Homo sapiens: one gene and its partner. The protein of the gene in region 1 interacts with the protein of each later gene in a pairwise test. Each region holds a gene or a part of one and is shown in the gene's direction. Other genes may lie near its edges.

Evidence for each region.
Region 2: the proteins of GAN (region 1) and MAP1B interact in binary tests that used the Homo sapiens proteins (3 or more experiments, as listed by UniProt).

What each region holds. Positions count from the first base shown.
Region 1 is NC_000016.10:81,387,895-81,391,545, forward strand, and holds the end of GAN (gigaxonin), read left to right. Parts: 3' UTR 1-2,915; downstream 2,916-3,651. UniProt on the Homo sapiens protein: Probable cytoskeletal component that directly or indirectly plays an important role in neurofilament architecture.
Region 2 is NC_000005.10:72,110,335-72,117,637, forward strand, and holds part of MAP1B (microtubule-associated protein 1B), read left to right. Parts: exon of another isoform or gene 1-3,153; intron 3,154-5,363; coding exon 5,364-5,465; intron 5,466-7,303. UniProt on the Homo sapiens protein: Facilitates tyrosination of alpha-tubulin in neuronal microtubules. Phosphorylated MAP1B is required for proper microtubule dynamics and plays a role in the cytoskeletal changes that accompany neuronal differentiation and neurite extension.

The sequences.
Region 1 (3,651 bases):
GGCTGGGATGCACACCATGTCTTCAGAGCTAGCCGGCTGTGTCTTCTCCCCGTTTCTTTCACTGGTGAATAACCTTTCGTTTGAACCAGCCTTGATTGTTCTCTCCATGTTCCACTGTGGCTCCCCATGGACACTGCTAGGTGGAATCTCTGAGAAAACAGGCACTTCGCAGTCGGCGCATCTTTCTCTGCCAGCTTAGGGATTGCCGTCAAGGTGGAGGAAGGGTATTTTGGCCATGTTCGGAGTCGTTGTTTTTACTCACTCTTCTTGGGATAGCTTTCCCACCCTGCCCTCTGCTCCTCTGTCCCAACCCTCTTCCAGCCTGGTTTTTTTACTGCTTGAATTATGTATCCAAAATAAAAAGGAAAAGAAAGGTGCAGTTGGGGCGGGTTGTTGGGGGCGAGGAGAATAGCCCTTCTGGTTCTTCAGACCACATAATGGCCAGAGCATGAGCCTCACAGATCCCTGAGCAGACCTGCATACTAGCACTTTCCACAACCAGCTGGCCCTGGCTGTGAGAGTCAGATCTGTCCCCAAGGCTCCAGGTCAGAACTTGGACCCAGGTGCCTTCTGAGGCACCGCCAAGGACACATCCCAGCGCCTTAGGCACCTGTAGGCTAGAATGACACCTTCCAGGCCAGCCCCAGAGGCCCTCAGGGCTCCCCCTCCAAGCCGGGAGGGCAGGCAGGCACAGGCCCCGCTCACTACCTCAGCACCCAGTGCAGCCCCAGGCTCCCGGACGTGCTCGGCCCGGTGGCCTCTTGTGTGACAGGCCCTCTGCCATGTCTGTCCGCAGAGCCGGGTGGGGACCCTCCGTGTGGGTCCTCCTCTGTCCCTTTGCAGCTCGCATTCGCCAGAGCGGAGCGCAGCCCTTGTTTCCTTCTTTCCTCTTCAGCTCTGACTTAAAAACACACTATGTTCCAAATCGTTGTGGGATCGGAAACTAGAACTGCTTGTTTCCAGGAGAGACCACCTTTTCATATTTTTTTTAAAAGGAATTTGTGCTTCAAAAGAAACTCCAAAAAATAAATTTATTGTTAGTCTAGCATATGCTCATTGAAATTGACTTATGTTTTATTTTAAAAAATCATGTAGGATCTGGTACATGGGGCGGGCAAAAGGGTATCATCAGCTTAAGAAGTAAAGAAGTGAGCCTTCCATTTGTGTGGGTGATAACATCTTTTTCCTAGATCGTACCTCAAAATTCAGGCTCTCCATGAAAACAAAGATAATCTGAATAAAAATTGTGTGTTGGGAAATGTATCAAGTGACCTTCAGTTAAGAAAAGCACAGGCTGTTTATTAGCACAACTTGCTTCATTAAATAATTCGTGGCTTTTTCTGCCACTGGGGTTCTTTTCGTTTTGAATTCAGCTTGTGTTTGGTTCCTCGGTCTTGTACCCCTTCAGTTCGCCGGCGACGTAATGGTGATACCCTTTGTTTTTTGTATCATACCTTTTGTGAATTGTGACAACCATCCCGTAATCATTGTGGCCTCAGCAGAAGTTTTGAACAATCTTTGCAGCCACTGTTGGGGTGTGTACCAGCAGCCTGGAAGTGACCAGCAGAGCTGACAAAAGCACCCCCTGCTCTGCCCACCTCCGCAGAGTCCTGTCCTCATCAGAAACGGTATCGCGGATGCTCCTCAGGTAGGCGTAGGCAGACTTCATTGTGTGTTAGCAGTGACAGTGATGTCTGTACCTATCTGTGAGTGAGACCCATTCATGACACACTAGAAATGTGTACATTCTTTTGTTTTCCATCACGGGTATAGGTCTTCTGCCATGAAAGAGAACTATCAAGGAAATTCCTGAAAACAAGATTTGTAAATTCGATTTGACCCTCCCAAATTCAGGGCTGCTCTTTGCAGTGGTCCCTGGCCCAGCAGGTGGCCGGCGTGGCTCCTGTTGGCTCATGCCAGTGTTGTGCTGGACCCTCGAGTATGTGACTGTCACCCTTGTCCAAGACTGGTTTTTAACAGTCTTGATTTGTCATTTTGATGCTTTGAATACTATAAGGAAAATGCCACGAATACCATATAAATACCACACCAATCTGTTGAACATATCTGTGTTTTCTGACATGGGACCTGCAGAATAGTATTTCTTTTAAATCCTGCAACTTTATTATCTAGTAGAATTCCAAGTAGGTCTGCTTAGACACATATTCAGTGAAGATTGTATTGTGTGTGATATTATCCTATCTTTAATAAAGTCCTACTACTGAAAAACAGGGATTTGCAATGAAAATCATAGCTAAATAGGCAGGTTTAGAAAGTTCAAAATATTGGAAGTGCTAGAAGGCTGCAACTTGTAAAATTGTACTCCCCAAGTTCAGTAGGATAGTAGAGAAGTCGTGCTAAGTTGATTTCATTGAAATGTCACGTCTCACATCCTGTGGTCCAAAGGTACTAGTTTGTTTTGTGGAATAATTTTCTGTTCACTTGCTGATAAGAAATTTAGCAGTCAGAAGTAATTTTTAATTAATAACCTTTCTTTTTAAAAGTTGCTTTATGGTTTACAAGTAATACTGATGCAAAAAGGATTTGTTAACCTAAATTAAGTAGCACGCACTTTGTTTACATGCTTCAGTATATTGTGGGGTTGGTCCCTTCTCACGAACCCAGGACCTGTGCTTGGGGAACATTTTGCCATCATGCTGTTCTCTTGTACCAAGGATCAGTGAAAGTGTTTTATCTTTTTTATGTAGTTTGTATTGACTGGATTTTATAACTGTAAGAAAACAGAAACAGAGTGTTGTATTTTGATCTGAAATTTGTGTATGCTAAAGTAATTTTGTTTTATGTATTGGAAGTTCACTTAAAAACTTGAAATATTTTCTAGAAGGGTACCACACAAAAGGAATCATCTTTAAGCTGTTTAATTAACCTAATAAAATAATTTGATGGGGAAGGCATTCTAATTGTTTCTGATTTTTAGAGTGGTTCCTGCTAAATCATCATTATCAATACAGCTTGATTTGATTTAAGAATGAAACGTTGTCGTTTCTGTCATTTACACGGTGTGGGTGTCAGCTCCTAGACCGTGGCTTGTGATGTTAGATCCGTCCCTTAGCAGCCACACCCCAGTCACTGCCTGAGCCTCTTCCATCGCTGACTGCCTGAGTCTCTCCATCGCTGACTGCCTGAGTCTCTCCATGGCTGACTGCCTGAGTCTTTCCATGGCTGACTGCCTGAGCCTCTCCATCGCCGTCAGCATAAGTCTCCTTGCTGTCTTCCCTGAAAAATGGTTTCAAATTGGCTTTCCTCAGAAGACAGAGAGAAAATAGATTTCGGAGGACTAGAGGACCTTGATATTAAGGGCTTGGTAATATGAGGCAGAATTCCATCTGCAGAAAGCAGATTTCTCTAGTTCCCTCTTACTGCGCTGTCCAGAGACAATAAACCTACAAAGATTGGTAGTACTTGAAAAAGATAATTCAAATACAGATCTCCACTGAAGGCAAGGGGTAAAGAGCTTAGCAACTCTACCATAAGGTCCAGGTTAGGTAAGGACAGGAAAGTGCACGGGCCGTCTGCAGACTCCCTCCTGAAATCACATGAAAAGAGGCAGTATATTCATCTTTGGTGGCACGGCATGGCATAACATAGGTGTGGCAAGTGGGTTTAAATTTTTTTCTACCTTTCATAACG
Region 2 (7,303 bases), on another chromosome or scaffold:
GTGAGCAGAGCCGTTTCTTTACACACCGTAGCAGATGCTGCTTTTCCTCTGAAGATGGCTCTCCTGGGTTCTGGGGTCTTGGCTGCAGCTCAAGATGCAGGCCCTTCCAGCGCTAAGTGAAAATCCTGCTCCCATAGCTTTTCAGACAGTCTGAGATGACTTAGCAACAGAGCAGGCTGGTCCTGTTTTCCTGTGCACGACAAGCTGCTGCTTCAGCCGCCAGGTCTCAGCTGGGCCTCCTCCAGAGGCCACTGCTGTTGTTGCTTGGTGCCTTTGGGCCTTGTTGTGTGAAGCAAGATGGAGCTGCTCCAGGGGGGCCAGCTCTGATGATTGTGTGTTGCAGGCTGGGAAGGCAGTTCCGCATCTGTTACTCTTTCTTCCTATTTCCCCTCCTGCCTTAACTGAGATTCTGGGTTTGGAGACCCTGGCGACTTGGATTCTTGCCATCCGATTACTGAGGGCTCTCTGGGAAGCCTAGAAAATAATCTATAAATCTGTAGAGACATGGTGGTAATGCAGTAAATCAACAGGCCTGGAACGTCCCAATGTGGATGCTTCGTAAATGCCTCTTGAAACCAGGGAAGAGAGATGGTCCCTCTTGCTTTCTCAACTATATTCGGAAAGCATAATGAAAGCTTTGGACATGTCTCCTCCAGAGTTTGGAACAATAGTGTTTCCTCGGACTAGGCTAGCTTCATTTATTTAGTTATGCAGGACTTTATTCCAAATCGTTTTCGCTACCACCAACTACTACTCTTTGGCACCTCCTTTTTCTCCTCCCTAATTAGCCCCCAGCATGGATTTAGCTAGTGGTTCTCATTTTCAGCAAAACCCTGCTTCTTGGTTTTATTTTAATACATAGAGGACATACATCCGTGTCTTGCAAACTGAATTCTAGAGCCTTGTGAACGTTTTCATTGTTTCATTTTTTTTTTAAGGAACTAAAACATATAAAGAATATTAAGTGTCTGTTGGATGTTTTCAATTACCGTTAGATTATAACTTTTCCTTTAGTTAACACTGGGAATCAGCAAGATTTGTTGGTGAAAAGATAGATGAATGTAACATCTACTGCTCTGCATTTTTAGATAAAAGTTTAGCTGATTACATTGTTACATTCTGATGTCACTTAACTGAATGTCCTTCAGTCTAAGATGGTAAGAGAATTTAAAACCCAGGAAAGATTTGGGGTTTAGTTTTCCTTTTCTTTTAACAGGGGAAATAAGAAACCAATACCATATGTGGTGAGAATTAAATGTTAGAGAGTCTTAAATTTACTATATTTGCCTATACTTTTCAAAGTCGAAGACAGATGGATTTCTGCTTGCACTGCTTAATTGGTATTATCTACGACAGCTCTGTGATCCATGCTGAAACACAAGGCAGTCCCCAAATTTAAGGTCATTAAATTGTTCACCTTCTCTAAGGGCTTACTTTAAAAAAATAAGTTATAACTTTTTAGACAAGCAAATAATTATGTCACTTCTCATTTGCTTGTGTTGTAAGATGTTATCTCAGACCTAAATTATTTATTATCAATGCTTTGAAACTATGAGCTCTGTATGTAAGATATTATCGTCATTACATACATATGTTATGAACATCAAGTTGCTGGCTTTAAAAAAAGAAAAAAAGCAAATTAAAGATGAGTTCAAGGGAAAAAATAAGAATTTTTTCCTCTGAGAAATAAAGCATTCCTAAATGTAGCATTTCCTTTAGTTCATTTATTTAGTTTATGATTTCAATCTGATTTCAGACCACTTTTTAGCATAGTTTTACAAATATAATCTTATGATTCTAGGTTAATGATTTAGGTACTTGGAAAAAATATCCAAAAGCCTGTTTTTCAGAGGGAGCAACTAAAGCCCATAAAGGAAAATCAACTTGCCAAAGGCCCAAATAACTGTCAGATAGAACCCATGTGCCATCAACATACAATGCATGGTCATTTCATTTTGCTTTCTTCAATCCACTGTCACCTTTAGAAATATGAATTTTAGCTTTTAAATGGGAGGTGCTTTTTTAAATTGTTGGTTTCATTAAACAACCCTGCAAAATGCTTACATGATTGGAAAACTTGGAACAATCTAGCCTGTACACACCAAGAGTACCTGACTTCTCCTCATTTTTCACCCTGACTTGTTCTTTAATGACCCCTCCCTGCCTCCCTGCCCCATAACCTATTCTTTTCTCCTTTTCTCATCTGTGTATATCATGTGCATGTCAGCCTCCCTTGTGTGCACTGCTACCACCTGGGGTCAGAGAACTGAGAAGGAAAGATCTTTTGTTGCTCCCTGGTCCCAAGGAGCTCACTTTCAGGGCTGGGCAATAGCCACAGAGCAGGCCCAGATTGTTCTCAGAGATGACGGATGCCTTTTGGCTCCAGACATTGAAAGAATGGGGTTCACTGCCTCCAACTGCCTGGAGTTATTCTGCCCCCACCTGGGTAAGCCCAGAAGGGGTACAGTCTTAGAATGCTGGGGAAACAAAGCCTCCAGGAAGAGCTTGACTTGGTGTATATTGGGGTGAAAATTAGAAAGAGGGCTTCCCTGCTCCCCAACAGAGACCAGGATGACTTGCTTCTGAAAGCCTCTTTAGAACCTCTTCACCAACACCCCAGGATGCCCTCCAGCCAGATTCAGAGAGGGGAGAATATGGGAAGGGCCAAAGAGATATTTTTCTGTCCTGTAAACTTTAGAGGGCTCACTGTTGGCTCCTTGTTAGGCACAAAGGGGAACTACATAAACCTACTAAATGCAATATGAACCTTCATTAACAACTACTCTTTGCCTTTACCAATATTATCCAGCAGGAGATACAAAGTAATTACAAATTATTTTATTTCTAAAATTGGTATGGAAAGTGGCCTGATTCCAAAATTTTCCTTTCCAACTAAAATAGCTGGCAAATCCAACATAACCTTTATTTTATAAGTGGTAGTAGTGGTTGTGCATTGCTAAGAAACAATTTGGGTGGAAATTGCTCTCTTGAAAAAAGAACCCTACATTTTTAGTTTCATTGGGAGTGTAAAAATGAGAAATATTTTTATCAGCCGTTTACTAGTATAATTTAGAAATTACTAAGTGGATTTATCATTTAGTACTTTTTCTATTGCTAAATTACAAATATGTCAAAAATAAAATATGTATGAAAATATAAAGCAAACATTTAATTGTGTGTGCCATGACAAGTTAACTGAAGCCAAGGGAAAATGGCAAGTAACAATGTAAGAGCAAGTCTGCAGATAACCCTGGATGAAGTCATTCAAATAATGTACCAATTTAGACATTACTTAGAACAAAGACAGAAAAATTGTATGAATTTAATTTAAATGCATATGTCTCATTATTAACTTATTGACCCAGCTTGACAGGGTAGAAGACAAAGTAGAGCTCAGACCTGGAACAAGGAGAATTCAGTCAACAATACCAATTAAGCAGCTCAGACAGGAACTCGATTTTTTTGCACTAGACTAGTATATAGTGTATACATTGAAGTAAAATATTCTAATGAATTCAGACCTCTCAACCTGTCAAGCTCTCTGTGAAACAAAAAGAACCCATTTATCATTTCTGCACTAAAAAGATCTGCGAAATCTCAACATGCCTTTCTTGTTAAAATTCAAATACTCCATTAGCACAAATGCAAACTGAGGCTATTAATGTTTCCAGGAAGAGCCATAAAATTCTCCCTTATAATTTGACCTTTCCTTAAGCACGTTAACTCTTCCACATCTGAATTCTTCCCATTGATCATATGAGAAATTTCTGCCTGTATTTAGTGGACACACATCTATTTGAAAATATTCCTCCTGGTTGAAAAGGTCTGTGGTGTGTAATCTAAAGATATTTTAGATGTGCAGTGAACTGAGTTTCCAGAATCTTTTTTTTTTGTAATGTCTATGTATAATCCACCTTGATTCTTTACAGGATAGGAAGACTGAATACAATATAACCAAGGGTAAATACAAATATGCCTTAAGGATCCAGTGTGTATTTAAGTAACACACTGCTATTTATTCCTTCAAGTCTGTATACATGACTAATGTCCAACAAAAATGATTACATGACTGGGTGTTAATTTAGAGATAGTTCACCTGCTGTGTTATACCTAGAGGTTCAAGCCCTTACCTTTAGGAGGTATGCAATAAATGTCTGTTGTTCTAGAGATTTGTTCCTGGCAATTGAGAATGCTGTATACAAAGGTACAATGATGGATACCACACACTGGCTCCACCATGAGCAACCTATTAGGAAAAATGTAATATATAATATGTAAACATGTAAAACACACACACACACCAGAGTTCTGGGGTTCCCCAACTTTCCCTGGCTTACTCTCCAGACCTCCCTTCTATGATGCTCTCTGGGGTTCCCTCTGGGCCATCCCCTTTGGGAGGGCAGGAGAAAGAGGACAGTGGGAGGAGGAAGGAAGAGGCTAGAGAGTAGGGCATGAGCACAGGAAGCTGCCCTCATCCCGCCTCTTGCCCTCCTGTTCCTCTCACCCTGGATATTCCTTTCAGCCTAGGGAAAGGAAGTCTGATAGGACTTCCTTTCCGTTCAGCCTAGGGTAGGAATAGCTGATTCATGTCCCCAACTCCATAAATGTTTTATAAAGTATAAAAAGTTGCCATTTTTCTTTGCCTCTGGATAAGAAAATTGAATACAATGAACAATTGTGAATAAAAGAGCTGCCTGCCAAGCTACTCAGGTAACAGAAAAGTGCCTGGAAGGACAGACAGGCCAAGTCTTGAAGATTGAGTGGATCCACTCTGTTTATCAAAGATCACATAAATCTTGGATTGATATCCAGGGCTCGATAAACCAAAGTCAAAAACGGGATTGGTAAAGGAAAGAAATTACACATGTATACTACCAGAACATCATTTTAGAAACAAAGGCCCGTGCTTGAATGGCAGCCCCCGTGTATTTTCTTTGCCTTTATTCTACATTTTCTTGCCACCTACAAGTGGAGTTAGTCTGTCTACAAGCTAGAGTTAGTCTGTTGGCCTCTTAGCTTCTTAAGAACTAACATCTTCCTGCCCTTTCTAGTCCCTCCCTGGAGTACAGCCTGTCATTTTCCTAACAACTGTTTTCTTTGACTCTTCCAGAAGAGGTGCATTTACTTTTTATGAGGGGCAGAAGCTCAGTCCACACTGCTAATTATCCCTCCCTTGTGGCCTGGTGGAGAGACCTCCCTGGCCCTCCCATTTTGTGGGCATCCACTGCTAAGCCACCAAGCTCTTCAGAAAAGGAGTTCCCACATCCTCCCTGAAAGCCTGAGAAATATTACAGTGATGTTGTCCAAACCACTCTGAAATGACTAACTGGAAGTCTCTCAACTGTCTTTCTTTCCCTCCCTAGGAATCCGATCATGGGACACAAACCTGATTGAATGCAACTTGGACCAAGAACTCAAACTTTTTGTATCTCGACACTCTGCAAGATTCTCTCCTGAAGTCCCAGGTGAGGCTTCCGCTCAGTGTTGGTCAGCCTAGAATTCCAAAGGACAAGGAGCAAGCTAGAAAGCTTTGTCTGAGGCAGCAAAAAGACTCTCTTATTGCTAAAAGGATACTTTGTATTTGTTATTATCAACTAGGTTAGCCAGCAGCCACAGTTTAGGAAGTCACTCTAGGTTATCACTGTGTGGGTTATCTATTTTGTGGATTCTTAATGAGTTTTTAAGTTCTAGGGTTGTGTATGTGTATATATATACACACACACACATCAATGATCACACAAATTTTGAATTGATATCCAGGGCTTGAGAAAGAGAGAGAGAGAAAGAGAGAGAGATAGTATAGTGTGTGTATGTGTATCTCACTGTACTCTGAGCTCAAGGGACTACAAACTATTTAAATGTTAATCTTACTCAAATGAAATTCTGAATACAAATTGGATGCTCCTAGGATCCCAGAACTGTCTTCCTGCAAAAGAAAAAGGAAACATATACTGCATTTCAAAATGAAATATACATCATCATTTCATAATTGCATTATCACCCGCCATTGCATTACCACTTATCTTTCTTCGTGTGGGTAAAAGAATCTGATATTACAAACTTCTGTTAAAATAGCCTTTTTTTCAGAGATGAAAAAGAATATCAAAGAATAATTAAAGGTAAGGATGCAAAAATTTGTCATATGTGAAGATGTTCCCACTAACCAGCCACCTTCCTGGGGCTATGATCTGACCCATGCCTCTGGCGCTGGAGATGTATTCATACTGACCCATCTCGTCTTCTTCTTGTGAGCAATAACCTATATTCCTCCCATTTGGTCACATTTAGGAATTATGAGACAGTTTCTGGCCCATAAAGACTCCAAACCTGGAATATATTTCTCCAGACCTTTGCCATTGACCCATCAGAAACACTGTATTACATCTTATTTCTTGACCATCACTTGAATTTTACATAAGAGAAAGCTATTTTCTGCCCATATGCTTTTGTTATATGATTCCTAATTTTATTGGCATTGATATAACATCAGGAATGAGATTCAGCCTATTTTGACTGGTTAGGTCATATTCCATTAGTCGTGTATATACATTGATATTTGAAATCACTTTTATAGAATATCAGTGCCTTCGTGAATCACATTTGGCTGCAGTAATATGCCCATAGGACTGTCTCAGTTCTTCCTTTTGAGTTTAATATTAGAATAAAATCCCATACATTTCAGTTATTGAAATGCATTGTAGCTTTCAAGTATGGAATTGAGTAAATGTGCTAAGAAAAGCTTAGCAAGAAATGGTTTATTAAAAGTTAACTTCCTGCAAAGCCACATGAAAAATCAGTTTTTAAGTAACTTTGCTTTGAGAAAAAAGGAATCCAGAGACTGTCAGACAGCATATGATTTGCTGAAGGAAAGGTACAGTATAAGGTTGTTTCTCTTGTTGTTATTTTATTGTATTTTTGTCTTGCGATATCTCCGTATCTTTTAAAACCATCTCACAAAAAAAATGAGGGAAGTGCTGTTTTCCAAAAAGTATGATTATTTCAAAATGTAAAAACTACAAGCTTTTATTTTTTCTCTGTAGGTTGTTCTGGCTTTTTTACTATGATTGTTTGTAAGACTTCTTTTTTTGTGTGTACAAGTCATGTGGTTCTCATTGTGTTCATTCATATTTGGACTGACTTTATAGAGTGACAACTGCATATTGCATAATGAAAGGCTGCAAGCATTGCTGAAGAATTAACCATTTCTAGACCCAAGACCTAGTATTGCTCCTGTGGAGTAGGAAGATCAAGTTCCCCCAAACTGTCACTTTAGCCTAATGTACCCCATTCTCCTCTCCTTTCT